Linked DNA regions of Homo sapiens. The protein of the gene in region 2 interacts with the protein of the main gene of each other region in a biochemical or structural test. Each region holds a gene or a part of one and is shown on either strand. Other genes may lie near its edges.

What was found. Proteins that work in one complex are often made in the same cells at the same time.
Region 1: the proteins of IPCEF1 (region 2) and CYTH4 form a complex in vitro, tested with the Homo sapiens proteins (one study listed by BioGRID).

Annotation. Positions count from the first base shown.
Region 1 is NC_000022.11:37,284,836-37,292,758, reverse strand, and holds part of CYTH4 (cytohesin-4), read right to left. Parts: intron 158-7,923; exon of another isoform or gene 139-157; coding exon 56-138; intron 1-55. UniProt on the Homo sapiens protein: Promotes guanine-nucleotide exchange on ARF1 and ARF5. Promotes the activation of ARF factors through replacement of GDP with GTP.
Region 2 is NC_000006.12:154,157,474-154,165,396, forward strand, and holds part of IPCEF1 (interactor protein for cytohesin exchange factors 1), read right to left. Parts: intron 2,568-7,923; coding exon 2,355-2,567; 3' UTR 1-2,354. UniProt on the Homo sapiens protein: Enhances the promotion of guanine-nucleotide exchange by PSCD2 on ARF6 in a concentration-dependent manner.

The DNA.
Region 1 (7,923 bases), on a different chromosome or scaffold from region 2:
CAAGCGTGCAGGAGTGTGGGCATGGACACGTGTGTGGACACGAGTGTGCACTCACCTGGATGTCCTCCAGGAGCTGCTTTCGGTGCCACTTGATCCTCTGTAACTCTTCCGTCTCCCCGCTGCTCAGCTCCGCGGGCTCTACAGAGAGACAACCGGCCTTCCCCATCACTTGGCTCCAGCCACACCCACTTGCCCTCACTTCTGCAGGGCCCCCTTCCCTCCGGAAACCCAGGACTTGCCCTATTCACAGAGGCCCACCTCCTCCAGGAAGCCTCCCCTGACTGCCCTGTCTAAAGCAGCCCCTGCTCCCTCCTCTCCTGCCCTGCTTCCTGTTTCTCCCACCCCCCTGGATAGACACCCCCAAAAGGATCCTGTTTCCTTGCATCTTTTCTGTCCCTCCCGCTAGACTCTCGGCTCCATGAGAGTTCAGTTGTTCTACTCTTTTGCTCACTACTGTGTCCCCAGCACCTAGAAAGAGTCTGACATGTCATAAGCACTCAGTTAAACACTCGCTGAAGGCACGCATTCCTTCCCCGGAACTTGAATCTCCTCCTCCACTGGCTCATGGGCTCATTATTTATTCACTTATTTATTTGAACAACCAAGAAGTGGTATACCATTTTCCTCACATCCCATTGGCCAGAATGTAGTCACGTGGCCACACCTAGCTGCAAGGGAGGCTGGGAAATGAGCCTGTAGCAGGGTGGTCCTGATGTCCTTACTGTGTAAAATGGGGAGGCTGGATTTGGGGGATATTTTATAGTCCCTGCCCCTGGATACTGGGGCTCAGAGAGGTGAGGTGACTCAACCCACAGGGAAAAGGTCACTGAGCCAGGATGGGACCTTGAATTGGGCTGACTCCAAAGCCTGTGCTCTTTCATCTCCACTTGGAAATGAATTAAATGAAATAAGATTTGTGTGTGCGGCATTCTATGCAAGGTGCTGTGATGATGCCCACAACTAGGTCAGCTGTCCTATCTTCATGCTTCATGGTGGCTTCTGTTTCATCCACAACACTCTCCTTCTCTGAGTAATATGGCCTCCCTATTACTCAGAGAGAAAGTCTTCATCCTGGGCCTGGGGCCTCCACAACCTCTCCAGCCTTGGCAGCCAGACTTATTCCCTGCCATTCCCAAAAAGAGCCTGCCAGTCCAGCCTGCCAGCTCCTTCCTGCTCCAGAGCCATCCAGGACTCAGTCCCACTTCCCCATGTTTGCCCAGGCCGCTCCTGTACTCTGGGATGCCTTCTCCTGTCTGCCTGCCCAAATCCTCGCTGACCTTCAAGTTCCAGCGTCGGGAAGTGCCTGGCCGCATTTCTTAAAGGTTTTACAAGGATAGACATCATTTCCTCCAAAAGAACACAGAGGGAATGTTGAGCGCTCCCTTTCCCTACTTCTCCTTCTCATGATTAAGCAGGCATTGTGGCTGTTGAGATTAAAGCCCCATGCGGAGATGCAGGGCACCAGGCTAGATGGAGCCCAGGTCCCCAGGCAGCGGTGTGGAGAAGACTCATCATGTTCACCTGGCCCACCTATCCATTTGGACTTTTCAATAAGAAATAAATCAGTTTTGAGAATGTTTCGGTTGCTGTTATTCTGAGTCTCTTTAAGCAGCTAAATCTGAGATATACCTAATACAGCATCCTCATCTGTGAAATGTGAACCATAACCCTTGCCTCACAGGGCAGCTGTCAGGAAGGAAAGAGCTACACTTTGTCAAACACCCAGCAAGAATCCAACATATGCTGAGTCCCACATGTGTGCAATGGGTGCTGTGTGCATCTGGCTCTTCTCTTCAGGACCAAGGCACCATCCCCCCAGCTGCTGGGAGGAAAGCCTGCTGATGGCTCACAGCTGAATCCCTCCCCAGACACTAGCCTCAGCCAAAGGGAGGTGCCACGCCCAGGAGTTCCCCTGACCAAGGGCAGCCACTGCAATAAAAAGCCAAGTCCCGGTCAGGCAAGGTGGCTCACGCCTCTAATCCCAGCACTTTGGGAGGCCGAGGCGGGCGGGTCACGAGGTCAGGAGATCGAGACCATCCTGGATAACACAGTGAAACCCCATCTCTACTAAAAATACAAAAAATTAGCCAGGCATGGTGGTGGGCACCTGTAGTCCCAGGTACACCGGAGGAGGCTGAGGCAGGAGAATGGCGTGAACCTGGGAGGCGGAGCTTGCAGGGAGCCCAGATCATGCCACTGCACTCCAGCCTGGGCAACAGAGTGAGACTCTGTCTCCAAAACAAAACAAAACAAAACAAACAAAAAAACCCAAGACCCCTTGCCTGGTTTCAGGACCTACCCCAGTTTTCAGATACAGAACGTCGGGACTGAAGGAGAGGCTGGGTTCCAAGGGAAGAGTCCTGCAACATTGTGGCAAGTATATATGGCAATGACTCCCTGGTTCCACATTAAAACACCTGTGGCCATTCACTCCAACAACTGTACACTGGGGAAAGAGCAATATCCAAACATTCTGAGGATTGTTGGACACAGGATCCAAGTTGACATCAGCGCTCAAGACTGAAGTGTCTTCAGGGCCACATTTGAGTGGGGGTACATAGAGACCAGGTGGTAAATGAAGTCCTTCCAGGTCCAGCTCACTAGGGGTCTGCTTGATTCATGGCCACTTTCCTGGCCTACAGATGTAGAATTGGAATGGACATCGCTGGTACTTGAGCCCATATTGGTACCTTGGCCCATGGGGTCAGGATCATTGTAGTGGGAATAGCTATTTGGAAATTTATGAAGCTGACCCATCATCCCCACAGCGAAGAGACTAAATAAAAAACTATATCCTGAGGGGAATGGCAGGTGTGGGTGCCACTCTTGAGACCTAACGGATGCAGGAGCAATGGCCCTCATCACATACCCAAGCACTTCCCCGGTCGGGAGGATGGCCTGCTCCTTCCAGCTGCTTCCTTCTAGCAGAGAATTATATACTATGCAGAAAACAGTTCCTGGAATGGCACCGGGTCCTGGTAGAGATAGAGTGCCAGCCCACGGAACATCATGTAACTAAGTAGCTCAGATGGCTCCATCTGTCCCACTAAGTCAGAAGGTCAAGCGAGCCCAATAGTAACCCTTTGTGAGTGGTACGTCCAGGAGCAGGTGTGAGCAGAGCCAGAGGGCTCCAGTAGGCTCCAGGGATAGGTGGCCCAGATCCTCATGTCACCGCTGCTGGTGGACCAGGGTCTATCCCTCTGCTTACACCGTGACCACATGGGTGGGTCCCTTATGACTTTCTAACAACAGAGGAAAATGCCCAAGGCTGGTTGCAGAATGAGTTGGCTCAGAGTTTGGGCGCAAGTGAAAACCAGGCAGCTACTGAACTACAGTCCTGCTCAAAGGTGTCCTGGAAAGACAGTGATGAGGGCAAGTCCTCCCAGGGGGCAGGGCTTCAGGCAGGGCACCTGGCCATCCACTTCCTGTGGAAAGAGAAGTGACTTCTTGAAGTCAGAATATCCATGCATCATGGGCAGTGGTGAATGGCTTGACTTCTTGGTCAGAGGCAAGAAAGAAGGAAGATGGGAAGATCAGAAACACAGATGTCAGGAGAAGAGGCAGGTGGATGACCCCGTGGGAGCGGAATGTCCACTCTGCCAGCAACAGGGACGCATGCTGAGCCCATCTTTTCTCCAGAAGACCAGGGGGCAAACTGATTCCATGAAACCCCTTCTATTCTGCAAAAGTCAACAATCCATCTTGTCTGGAGTCGACACGTGTTGGAAATGTGTTTGCCTTTCCTGCCCACAGAGCCTCAGCCAGCACCACTATCCAGAGGCTTAGGGTGTTTGACCCACCAACACAGCACACCACATAACATCACAGAAGACCAAGGGATGCTCTCTACAGCAAAGGTGGTCTGAAGTGAGCACGTGGCCATGAGATCCACCGATCCTCTCTAGCATTTCATCGGAAGGTGCTGGCCGGATGGAATGGAGCCATGGGGCGGTCTTGAGAAGGTACAGCTGAGGTGTCAGCCTGGAGGTGATATCCACTTGGATGGGGCGCCATCCTCCAGGAGGCACCATATGCCCTAAATCTACCACCACTGTGTGGTGCTCTGTCTCCAGCAGGTGGACCACAAGGGTCTACGAGCTGAGGGGTAGGAGTGGGAGTGGCCCCACCTGCCATTCTCCTAGTGACCCACTCTGGAGTTTCCTTTTTTTTTTTTTGAGACAGTCTTGCTCTGTCACCCAGGTTGGAGTGCAGTGACATGATCTTGGCTCACTGCAACCTCTGCCTCCCAGGTTCAAGCGATTCTCCTGCCTCAGCCTCCCCAGTAGCTGGGATCACAGGCATGCACCACCATGCCCGGCTAATTTTTTATTTATGTATTTATTTTTTTGAGACAGAGTCTCACTCTGTCACCAGGCTGGAGTGCAGTGGCACGACCTTTGCTCACTGCAACCTCTGCCTCCCGGGCTCAAGGGACTCTCCTGTCTCAGCCTCCTGAGCAGCTGGGACCACAGACATGAGCCACCATGCCCAGCCAATCTCTGTATTTTTAGTAGAGATGGGTTTCACCATGTTGGCCAGGATGGTCTTGATCTCTTGACCTCACAATCTGCCCACTTTGGCCTCCCAAAGTGCTGAGATTACAGGCGTGAGCCACCGCACTGGGCCAATTTCTGTATTTTTAATAGAGACGGGGGTTTCACTATGTTGGCCAGGCTGGTCTCGAACTCCTGACCTCAGGTGATCCACCTGCCTTGGCCTCCCAAAGTCCTGGGATTACAGGTGTGAGCCACTGTGCCCGGCCCACTCTGGAGTTTCTTTCTGTCTCTGCAGGTCTAGAGGTACTGTTTCCAGGAGGGAGTTGGCGGGGACACTTATACCAGGGGACAAAGCAAGAGTCTTATGACCCGTTAAGCGCACAAACACCTACTCCATGCCAGTCTCTGTATAACTGCTGTCATTTAACCCTCTTTGAAGTAGGTATTTTCCAGTTTGAGACACTGAGGCTTAGGAAGGCGAAGTGACTCGCCCCAGGTCTCATTCACAGGAAGTGGCAGTGCTGGGAACTGCACCCTTGTTTGCTGACCCCCACGCCTCTGCCCCAGGAGAGGTGGATTCCCAAACTGCTTGGGACATGCAGGGATGGAAGGTGTAAGGGGCCACCTGTGTGGAGATGCAGAGCAGGGACAGCCGGGGAGGCAGTGCTGGAAGCTGGCTCCGGAACTCTTCCGGCAGGAGCTGGCGGGGAGGCCGTTGGTCTCATCCATGGGAAAAAACCAATCACCTTGGGTTGCCTTGGAGGTGAACAATCCGATTCTGTTTTGTTTTGTTTGTTGGCTTTATACAGTTTTCCTGTTGGCTTGGGGTTGTGTTTCTGCCCAGGGCGCACCTGCTGGAGGAGGCTGAGTGGATTCCAGACTGGCTGCTTGTCTGAGAGAAGCCAGGGTGGGCTCCAGCATTCCTACAGATGCTCCAAGGTGTGGATGGCCAGAATTGAGTGATGGGGCTCCTGAAGCTCCTCCTAGGCCGACCTTCCTGGTCCCCATGGGGCTTCATCAGCTCCTGGCTCCCACCTGCCTTCAGGGTCCAGGGAATCATTCACACATCCTCTGTTCCAGCCCCTTCTCTGAGCTTCAGATCCAACCATCCCCTATGTATTGGTCACCACCGCTCTTGTCATTGTGCCCAAAATTGAACTTCTAGAATGCCCCCTCCTCCCCATCCTCTTCCTGAATTCCTGAGCTCTGGAAATGGTCCACATTTCCCCAGGAGGCACTCTGACTCCCACCTGGCTGTCACCCCTTGGGTCTCCTCCATCACCAAGTCCTGTCTATTTCTTTCCCCTTCCATGGCTCCACTGTCATCCCAGCCGCTATCGCTTTGCTCAGGGGGACTTCAGGGCTTTCGGATGCCTCCCTGCCTCTTCTACCCATTCTGGTCCAGTTTCCCATGGCATCCCATTGTCCTGGGGACAAAGACCCCAAATCTCACCAGTCCTGCTGGTGTATCCCCTCCATGCTCCTCTCACACTGTGCCCCTCCCCGTCCCAGCTCCGTGCTCTGCCTCCCTGGCTGCCCTTCATTCACTCCCCTGAGCTCTAGCCTTCCAAAAGCCTTTGCACCACCATTCCTTGTACCCAGAACGCCCTTCCTTCTCCTCTCTGCCAGCAGCCCCTCCTTATCTCCTACTTCAGATCCCTTTTCAGGGGTCCTCCTGGGTTCCATCTAGGAGCCATCCCTGCCCCCACCCCTTCCCATTCCCCACAGCGTTTCTGGGATCTGCATGGCTCAATAACCAAGCCACGCCGTTGGTTAAGGAAGGCATGGTGGCTGAGCACCCATGGTGCGCCAGGCCCTGTGTGATCCAGGCTCTTCCCATCCACTCTCATTGAATCCCACAACCACTCCGAAAGGAAAGGTACTTCTAAGCTCATCCTACAGGTGAGGCCCCTGAGACTCAGAGACGTGAAGTGTCCTGCCAAAGGTGACACAGCTGGAGGGTGGCAGAGCTGGGATTCACATCTGGGTCCATCTGGGGCTCGGAGGCTTACAGCCCTGATGTTGATCTTCCGAAGGCTGATCTCTCCATACGAACCATCAAACACCCGTCGGACGCTAAATCTGGGTTTCTGACGGGGTTACACGTTTCAGAATAAAGGCAAGATGCAGAATGATGCCTGCAGTTGCCCCCACCCAACCCCTGCAAAGCCAACTTTGCAGAGCTGGGGAAACTGAGGCACGGTTCCCAGGGGAGTGGGATTGCATGGGAATAGTGAGCAGGTTGCTTGTATTTTTACTGCATACAGCTCCTTTCATACTCCCTTCTGGTTGACAAGTGTGTTCGTGAATCCTCAGTCCCCTGTCCCCTTCTGACGGGGGTCCTGTCCCGAATAGGTGGCAACTGGTCAAAGCATCTGAACCCACATGAGGGTGATGATGGCCCCGGGCTTGCTGTGTCTTACATGGTGCACACGGAGCCTACTGACCCTTCCTCTATTTGTTAAAAAGAGGAGATTCCTCCCCATTTCAGAGTTTCAGGCACCGGTGTAGGCTCATGGGATATGTTTTTTTGTTTGTTTGTTTGTTTGTTTGAGACGATGTCTCTGTCTGTTACCCAGGCTGGAGTGCAGTGGCCTGATCTCGGCTCACTGCAACCTCCACCTCCCAGGTTCAAGTGATTCTCCTGCCTCAGCCTCCCAAGTAGCTGGGATTACAGGCGCCCACCACCAGGCCCGGCTAATTTTTTTTTGTATTTTTAGTAGAGACGGGGGTTTCACCATGTTGGCCAGGTTGGTCTCGATCTCCTGACCTCTGGTGATCCACCTGCCTTGGCCTCCCAAAGTGCTGGGATTATAGATGTGAGCCACCATGCCTGGCCAGGAGATGAATTTTTAAATACTAATAATAATACACACAAATAATAAAATTACCACCACCACCACCACCACCACACACCCCGTTTCCTTCTCACTTATCTCTGTGCTTCTCACAACCTCACAAGGTGTGACATGAACCCCCACCCCAAGCCCACAGGCTGGTGCTGCCCTTGCGCCCAGGCTGGTGAATGTGCCCATCTCCCCGGCTCCTCCCCACTTCCTCTTTGTCCTTCCTCTTTCCCATCGTATTTTTAGAAATCTTTGAGCTTGCAGCCCTGCTTCCAGGACAGCTGGCCTCACTTCCCCTTTCCAGGGCAGGAGGAGGATGCCATCTCAGGGCCCTAAATAAAGAGGCCCCTCAAAGTCTCAGTAGGAGGGACCCTGGGGCAGAGGGGGTGTGGGTGGAGCTGCTCCCCGCCCCAGCCCCACAAGCCCCACAGGCTCTGCGGAGTGCGGCTTCCTCCCCCGCCGCCCCCCCACCGCCCCAGCCGAGCTGGCTCTATTTTTAACTGCGCTGCCTGTCTTCTCTGCACCAGCACAGTGCTTGTCTTTGGCCACACTGGGGCTTTGCTGTCTGGCCCTCTCACCTT
Region 2 (7,923 bases):
ACTTTGAAAAATAAATTTAAGCCTTGGCTAAGTAATCCCAGGGATCTTTTTTGCCTTAAGTTTCAATGGTACTAAAGGAGTTTACAGTTGAAAGGCTGGGGAAATATGTCTTCACGAAAAGCCAAAGGAAAGCATTCAAAGCTATTCACAAACCCTGCTCAAAAGTGTCTGGAGCTCTTCAATTTAAGAAAAACTGGAAGTCTACAGGCTGGTGTTGCAAACCAAAGAAAAATAGGTGGAAGGGCACTTTATGTCACACTGTTATTTCTGCTATTGTTATTTGTTGTTCCTTCAATACTCTTTACATTGCCAATCCTAAATAATTTCCCTTCTGGTATCTGCTAATCACAGAAAGAATCAGTAATTTCCAGGGGCAAAAGGTTAAAGCACTGCTTTCCTAAACCAGGGCATCAGGGTGCAATCTGAGGATCTGAATGTTCTCTCTGTCAGGTCACCACAGGTCAAACTCATCTTCAGTGGCTTCCCTAGGTGGAGAAGTACCCACATGTTTGCTGGGCCAAACTGACTGGCCTGGCCTCTTATCTTAGAGAAGTTTCTAGCAGTACAACTTGCTTCTTGTTTTTTGTTTTTATTTCTTAATGCTAAGGTTGTTTTTTGTTTGTTTGTTTGTTTACAGAGTATTAAGGCTTCTTAGTAAAGCTTGGGGAACTATTCAACAACTATTTCCATTTTGTTTGCAGATATAATTCAGGTGGTTCCTTCCATTTGAATGTCAAGCCACACTTTGAAGCTATAAAACAAAATAGGTTGTGTGAACAATTTGTTACGGGTAGGCAGGGCCAACATGGGTACTTGGTGGGTTGTGGTTATTCCTATGGTGAGAAATATTCATGGTGATTAGTAAGGGAAGACTTTCATATTGTTTCTCTATAGCTCTCTTTAACACAATGATTTCTAAATTTCTATTAGTCTTTAATGAAAAGATGACATTAGTTGTGTTGCCTTTGGTCTAAGGTTTGCAGGCATAAATGGCACAAAGCTTAAAGTTTATTTAATAGAAAGGATAATCTAAGATGAAAGTCCTTTGCTGGTTAAAAGAGTGACTTACAAGAGATAGAAATCTAAATTTAAGAGCTCATGGGGGTTGGGGTGGGGAAGAAAATGAAAAATTATGAATGCATGCCCCATTTTTTTCCCACAAGATTTCCTGAGCATTCCTCAGACACAGTGCAACATCATAACACCAGTGAATCAATAGTATTTCTATTTTTCTCAAGCAAAAAGTATAGACTCATCAAATATATACTAAGCACAATATATAATAGTATATCATCTTTTAAACACTAGTAATTTGAACTTCTATAAATATATTTAAATAACAAACATAGCTATTCACATAGCACACAAGTGACATATAAACATACAAAAATAAATCCCTCATGTTTAACTCTTTTGTTGCTTCCATGGGTTTTTGTTTTTTTGTTTTTTTGAGTAAAGATATTAAAACAATTCAGATGCCAAAGTCGTCTTGTCAATATTGATCCTGGGAAACCTGGATATAAATTCACACTATGTATAGGGATCACAGCCAAGGACAAGAGCAGTAGACATTCTTTGCGGAACATATTCCTATCTCCTACCATTGAGTAGGAAAGCTCAAAGGAAGTAGAGGTCTCCAATTGTGATGAGATGTTTTCTCTAGCTGTTGTAAGGAAAGGAAACATTAATCAGATCCCCTAACCTGCATAAAGTGTGAAAACACCAAGCTGTCCTTTGAATGAGTGGAATATGGAACACGCCTCCTCCTTCAGCTCTCCCACATGCCACTGTCTATGAAGCATTTCTCATCACATGGAAAAGGCACCACCATTCCATACCAAAGGCAAGGAATTTTTGTTCTGCAACACCACGTTTGTCCTTCCAGTCACTGCTCTAGAAAACATTCCTCCACTCAAACAGTGATTTGGGCCACACAGCTTCCCAGTCAAGTGGAATATGTACATTCTTCTTTTGAAAAACAGAATGTTTCCATGGGCAATTACTCCTGGTAAAATTTGATTCTTGTCCATAGCATTCTCTGGAGAGCAATGAACAGAAGAGACATTTCTCACATCCCCCCTAGAGCCCCACATCACCGTGAGCTCCCAGTAGGAACACAAAAAACGCCTTTCAACTGAACTCAATCATTCCAATCTCAATGGATGCGTTACGACTGAAATGAGGAGCCCTGGTGTATTCGGTGATTATCTTCATCTAACGTGCATCTTTAGATGGGAAGCTGATGCTTGAAGGACTGGGTTTCAGTTTTCCTTTTAAGGAAAAATGTAAGCTTTTGCAACATCTTGAAGAGTTGCTTGTGATAAAATATAAGAGGAGAAAACCCTGACTTTGTCTCAAATGGAATTTTCAACAGAGGGAGAAGAAGGTGATTTCTTGAGTTCCTGGGGGGTGTCATCAGTGTCATCAGGGGCAGGCGAAGCCCGCTGCTGCTGATAGATGTCCTGGATCAGCAGGGTGTTCATGACTTTCCACTCTCTGTATTTCCTGGCTGTCAGCTTCGGGTCATCCAGCAACTGGTTAATCATGGCCAGATCATGTTCTTTACACTGTGTGAGTAGAAAAAAAGGGGAAGGGGGTATGTTGAGAGTGTCTTAATTTACATAAACCATCTTTACCAACTCTTTTACAAGTACACATATACATAAAATTACCAAAGCATTTTTGCACGTTAATGTTCTAATTCCAGCATTAAGCTTAAGAAATACGACATTTGTTTGCATACGCTAGCCGCAAAGAAGTGAAGTATCCTACCCAAGAGTTAGTGGAAGAGCTAGACATATAGCAAAGATCTTCTATGTTGCCTTTCCCTGATCAATCCATTATTCCACACCACAGTAACAATTCTACCTTGGTGTGGGAATCATGCCTCCTAAAACTTACCATTGTAGGTATTAGCATTTTATTGACAATCCAAACTTCACTAAGTAAAATTGGAACGTAACACTTTACCTAGGACATATGGCAACATAAAATATGTCTTTTAAGATTTTATTAAATTATCTTTATTTTTAATAAATCACATTTATTTAATACAGAATAAATACACAGATTATCTTTTCAGTCAAAGAAGAGGCTACTAACCTTCCATCAAAACAGTATGTATTCCAATAATGCTAATAAACAACCTATTGGTGCTATTCCATTCTGCCTCCTCTGTAACCAATGGCACACATTTCTGAAATGTCTAGCTCAGGTTAGAGTTTTCTATAGACAAGGAATGGAGTATAAATAAGATGTTCATCCTCCATATTAAAAACAAATATTCAGCCCTGACAATTGTATCTCAAATCTATGCCTGTTTTCTCCATCCCATGACCATAATCCTAAGGTTGGATATCCAGTTCAATATATCACGTTTGATCTGCTGCCACAGCCTCCTGAGCGAGACCACTGCCTCCAATGCCCACTTCAACTCCACCTCCACTTAGCAGAGCAGGGATGCATGTAAATGCCGAGTCCCCCTCATGGATCCCCTTACACCCAAGGCTCCTCACCTGCACTGGCACCATTTGTTGATACTCTGCTTCCTTTTGACTTCCCAGTCTAATGTACTGGCATGCATTTTCTCACCCACACAACACTAGCTCACACCTCCGTGTTGTTGTGCCACATGAAGAATCTTCCTTGCCTTTCTTCACCTCATAAACTCTAATTTCTAGAGTTTCTTTTACACAGAACACTTTCCAGTCTTTCTTTACCCAATTTTTTTCTTTTCTTTTCATTTTTTTTTTTTTTTGAGACAGAGTCACTCTGTTGCCCAGGCTGGAGTGCAGTGGCCCAATCTCAGCTCACTGCAAGCTCTGCCTCCCAGGTTCAAGCGATTCTCCTGCATCAACCTCCCAAGTAGCTGGGATTACAGGCATGCACCACCATGCCTGGCTAATTTTTCTATTTTTAGTAGAGATGGGGTTTCGCCATGTTGACCAAGCTGGTCTCAAACTCCTTAAACCTCAAGTGATACACCCACCTCAGCCTCCCAAAGTGCTGGGATTACAGGCGTGAGCCACTGCACCTGGCCTACCCAATTTTTCAAAACCCGTAAATCTATACTTGAGGCATCACATTGTCCAGGAAACCTTCCCTGCACTCCCAAAATTGGACTGATAAGCTTTTAAGTTTTTATGTTCTCATGCCTTCCAATGATGCCCTCTGAGAACTTACCGAGGTACATTTAGGTATTTACGGGTAAGTCATGGCCCCTCTTCTAAAGCTTAAAGAAGATGACAAGAAACATTTCCTTCATCCCTGTATTCCCTGCACCTAACGCAATGCCAAGTGCCATGTAGACATTCAATTCATGCATGTGATTGAACTACTCTTTTTGACTATCCCCAGGACAGCATGTGTGAAACTAAAACTTCACAACCACTGCCAGTAAGTGGATTTTCACTACTCTCCAGTCATCACATTTTCACATCCTTTTTCTGGCAGTCTCCCAAATGACTATTTCAAAACTCTTCTCATCTCAAACCCCCTCTCTCATCCTCACTCGCAGCTGATGGCCTTGCTATCTCTTTGTTGAGGAAATGGAAGCCATCAGAAGAGCACTTCTCCCAAGTTCCTATTGCCCACGAACTACATGGATGCAAATCTATGCTGCCTTCTGCCCTGTTCACAGAGATGGAGCATCTGTGCTCCTAGTAAAGGCCAATCCCTCCACTTGGGCACAATGGCCCCCGCTCTCCTACTCAAGAAATTCATCCCAGCAATTCTGTTCTCTCCTCTGACTCACCAACTTTCCAGATCCCCTCCAGCAGTCTCACTGGTACACATGTTTGCTGTTATTTCTTGCATGTTAAAATTCCTCTCTGCCCCCAAATCCCTGTCCAGCTAATGCTCTACTTTTTCCTGTCTCCAGTGGCCCATTCTGCATAGATTCAGTCCCATCAGGGTTTGGCCCCCACCATTCACCAAAACTGCTCTTGTGAAGACCATCAGTGACCTCCATGTTGTTAAATCCAATAAACCATTAAATCAATGTTAAACCAATGATCCATCTTCAACTTATTTATCAGCAGCACCTAAAACAATTGACTACTCCTCCTTCTTGAACAGTTTCATTGTTGTGCTCCTATGATACATTCTCCTGATTTTTCTTGTACCACAATTGCTACTTACTCCCACCTTAGTTGCTGATTCCTCCTTGTCACGCCACCTCTTCTCACTGGAGTGTTCTAAAGCCCCAGCTTGTATCCTGTTCTCTGCTCTATCTATGTTCATGCTGTTGGTAATCACAAGAAATCTCTCCCACTCTCCTATGTGCTGAGGGTCCCAAGTTTATATCTCTCCTTACTTCTTCCCTGGACTCCATCATCATTTGTCTAAACTTCCTCTTCAGCAGTTCCACATCAACCCCTAAGAGGCATCTCAAAAATAACATATCTAAAGATAAGTTCCTCTTATTCTCTACATCCCCACCCCACCAACTTCCAATGCACACCAAACCCGGTTCCTACCGTAGTCTTCCACAAAGCACTTAATGGTAACTCCGTCTTTCCAGTTGCTCAGAGCAAACACTGGAGTCATTCTTGACTCCTTCTACCACACCCAATCCACCAGCAAAGGCTGATGGTTCTACCTTCAGACATGACACAAAGCATGCCATCCTTCTGTTCAGAACCTTCCAGAGGGTCACTGTCTTACTCCGAGCAGAAGCTGGTGTTTGCAATGGCAATGAGATCCTCAATGGCTCGAGTCCCTGCTGCCCCTCCAGCCCACTGCTGCACTCCCCATGCTCCATCCCCACTACATTACAGCTACCTTGACCTCCTTGCTCTTCCTTAAATGCCCTAGGCACACTCCCGCCCCAAGGTGTTTGTGTTTTTGTTCCTTTTGCCTGAAATATTCGGCCTCAGAGAACCTCAAGCCTCATTCCCTTTCCTTTTTCAGATTTTACACAAATTATGTCTTTCAAAGAGGCCTTTCATGTCCTTCCTAATTAAATATCAATTCCTCAACATGTTCTATCCCCTTTTCTATTCTTTATCAAATCTATCATCACTTATCATATTATACATTTAATAGTCAATTATGTTTGTTTATTCTCCTACTAAAACATAAGCTTCCGGAAGGCAGGCCTTTTTATCTGACATGCCCAGTGCTATAGCCCCAAGTGCCTGAAAGAATGACTGCACATGTAGACTGTTTACACATGTAGACATTCGTTGAATACTTGTTGAAAAAATGAATATATAAAATAAGAAATAAATGAATAAATGAATTACCAATTTGCTTTTTATTCTCTTTTGCATTCTGAACCCTATTTGGAGTCTGAGGAAATCCTTTCCATTAAACAAAAAAACTAGACATAGATTCATAGATCAATAGCTGGATAGATAGATATTAATAGATAGATAGATAGATAGAAGATAGACATATAGATGGATAAAGATAGGAATCCTTCCTTCCAAAATGGAGAAAAAACAGTGCAGTAGGAAAGCAGAGGGATTGTTTATAGAAAGTTAGGCAGGGCCAAAAGAGCATATTTCTTCTTTCTGAGTTTTCAATATCTATGCTTCCAAAACAACTTTTCCAAAACAACAACAACAACAAAAGCTTTCTTCCTCTGATATCACCATACTGCTATTAATGTAAAGTTATTTAAAGAGTTTTATTTTGTTCTAAAGAAATTTAGACATCTACTTCAAAGGAAGATCCTAATTTTTCATATTAAAAAATTAAATAAGATCTTTGAAAATTAATAAAAATTGGGGAAACTGACTTTGCATACATGAATTAACCCCTCTTTATAGCTAATAAAATTTTTAGAACAGGGTCTCTTCAACTTTGGGCATTAAGCTGACACTTCTCATATGGCTTTTGGCTCTAAGTAGTTCAAATTTTTTACCATTTGGCTCAAATCTGTGTTAGTTCTTCTATGGATGAAAGAAAAAAATGTAGACAATAATACAGAAGAAGGAAATTAATGAAACAACAGAACCTTCCAAGCTCCTTCCTACACCAGGCATCCTGGGGCTGGGCCTCATCCAGCAGCCCAGCTTCTCCTGGATGGCGCATGAGGCTTTTGGAGGGCTTTGAACTACTTTCACAACATCCGCTCTGCTTTCTGGCAGGCAAGCAAGGTTTGGCAGGGATTCCAAAAATACCATGAAAGAGAGAATGCTGTACTTTCAGTTTTTACTCCAAATAGTCAGTGTGTGGCTCGACTCAAGACCTAAGCATTGGAAATGTGTTCCACCAGAGTAGCTACGGGAAGAAAGGGTTCACCGCTCTTGTGACATAGGTCAGAGTAACTCAGAGAGAGTTTCAGTTGGACCCATTAATCATTCCATTAATAACTTATTTTAAAATAAAAGCAGACTTAGCCAAAAGTCAGTGAATGATGAGCTGTTAGAAATTCCTAAATATCTGTATTTAGTGTACAACATAATACGATCAACTTTTGCTCAAGTTCAACTTGGAAGTTTGCTCAACTTCCTAGAAGAATTTCCCTGAAGTGCATTCATTCCAGTACTATCCCAGTGCAGGGATTTTTCTTATTTACGGAATGCACCTGCGGCAAATATAAACATTATTGTTAAAACAGTTTCCTTGTTTCTGCATGAAACTCTGTTGTCTTTGCTTGTCTACACTCCTACTTTGGAGCTTTTAAAACATAAACATTTCCTCTGTGTATGATATATTCTCTGTGCAATATATCATACTCAGAGAAAAGTGCACAAATAGAAAAATTGTGCTTAAAGAATTATCACAAAATAAACACTTCCATACCACTACTACCAGGGTCACAGAAGGACCCGCACCCAGCACTCAGAAGCTCCATTCACATCCCCTCTCAGTCCCATCCTCTCCTCTTCCTCAAAGACAACCACTCTCTTGACTGCTTTGAATTTTAAAAACAATTAGAAATAATTATTATACCCTTCCAACATGAACATGCAC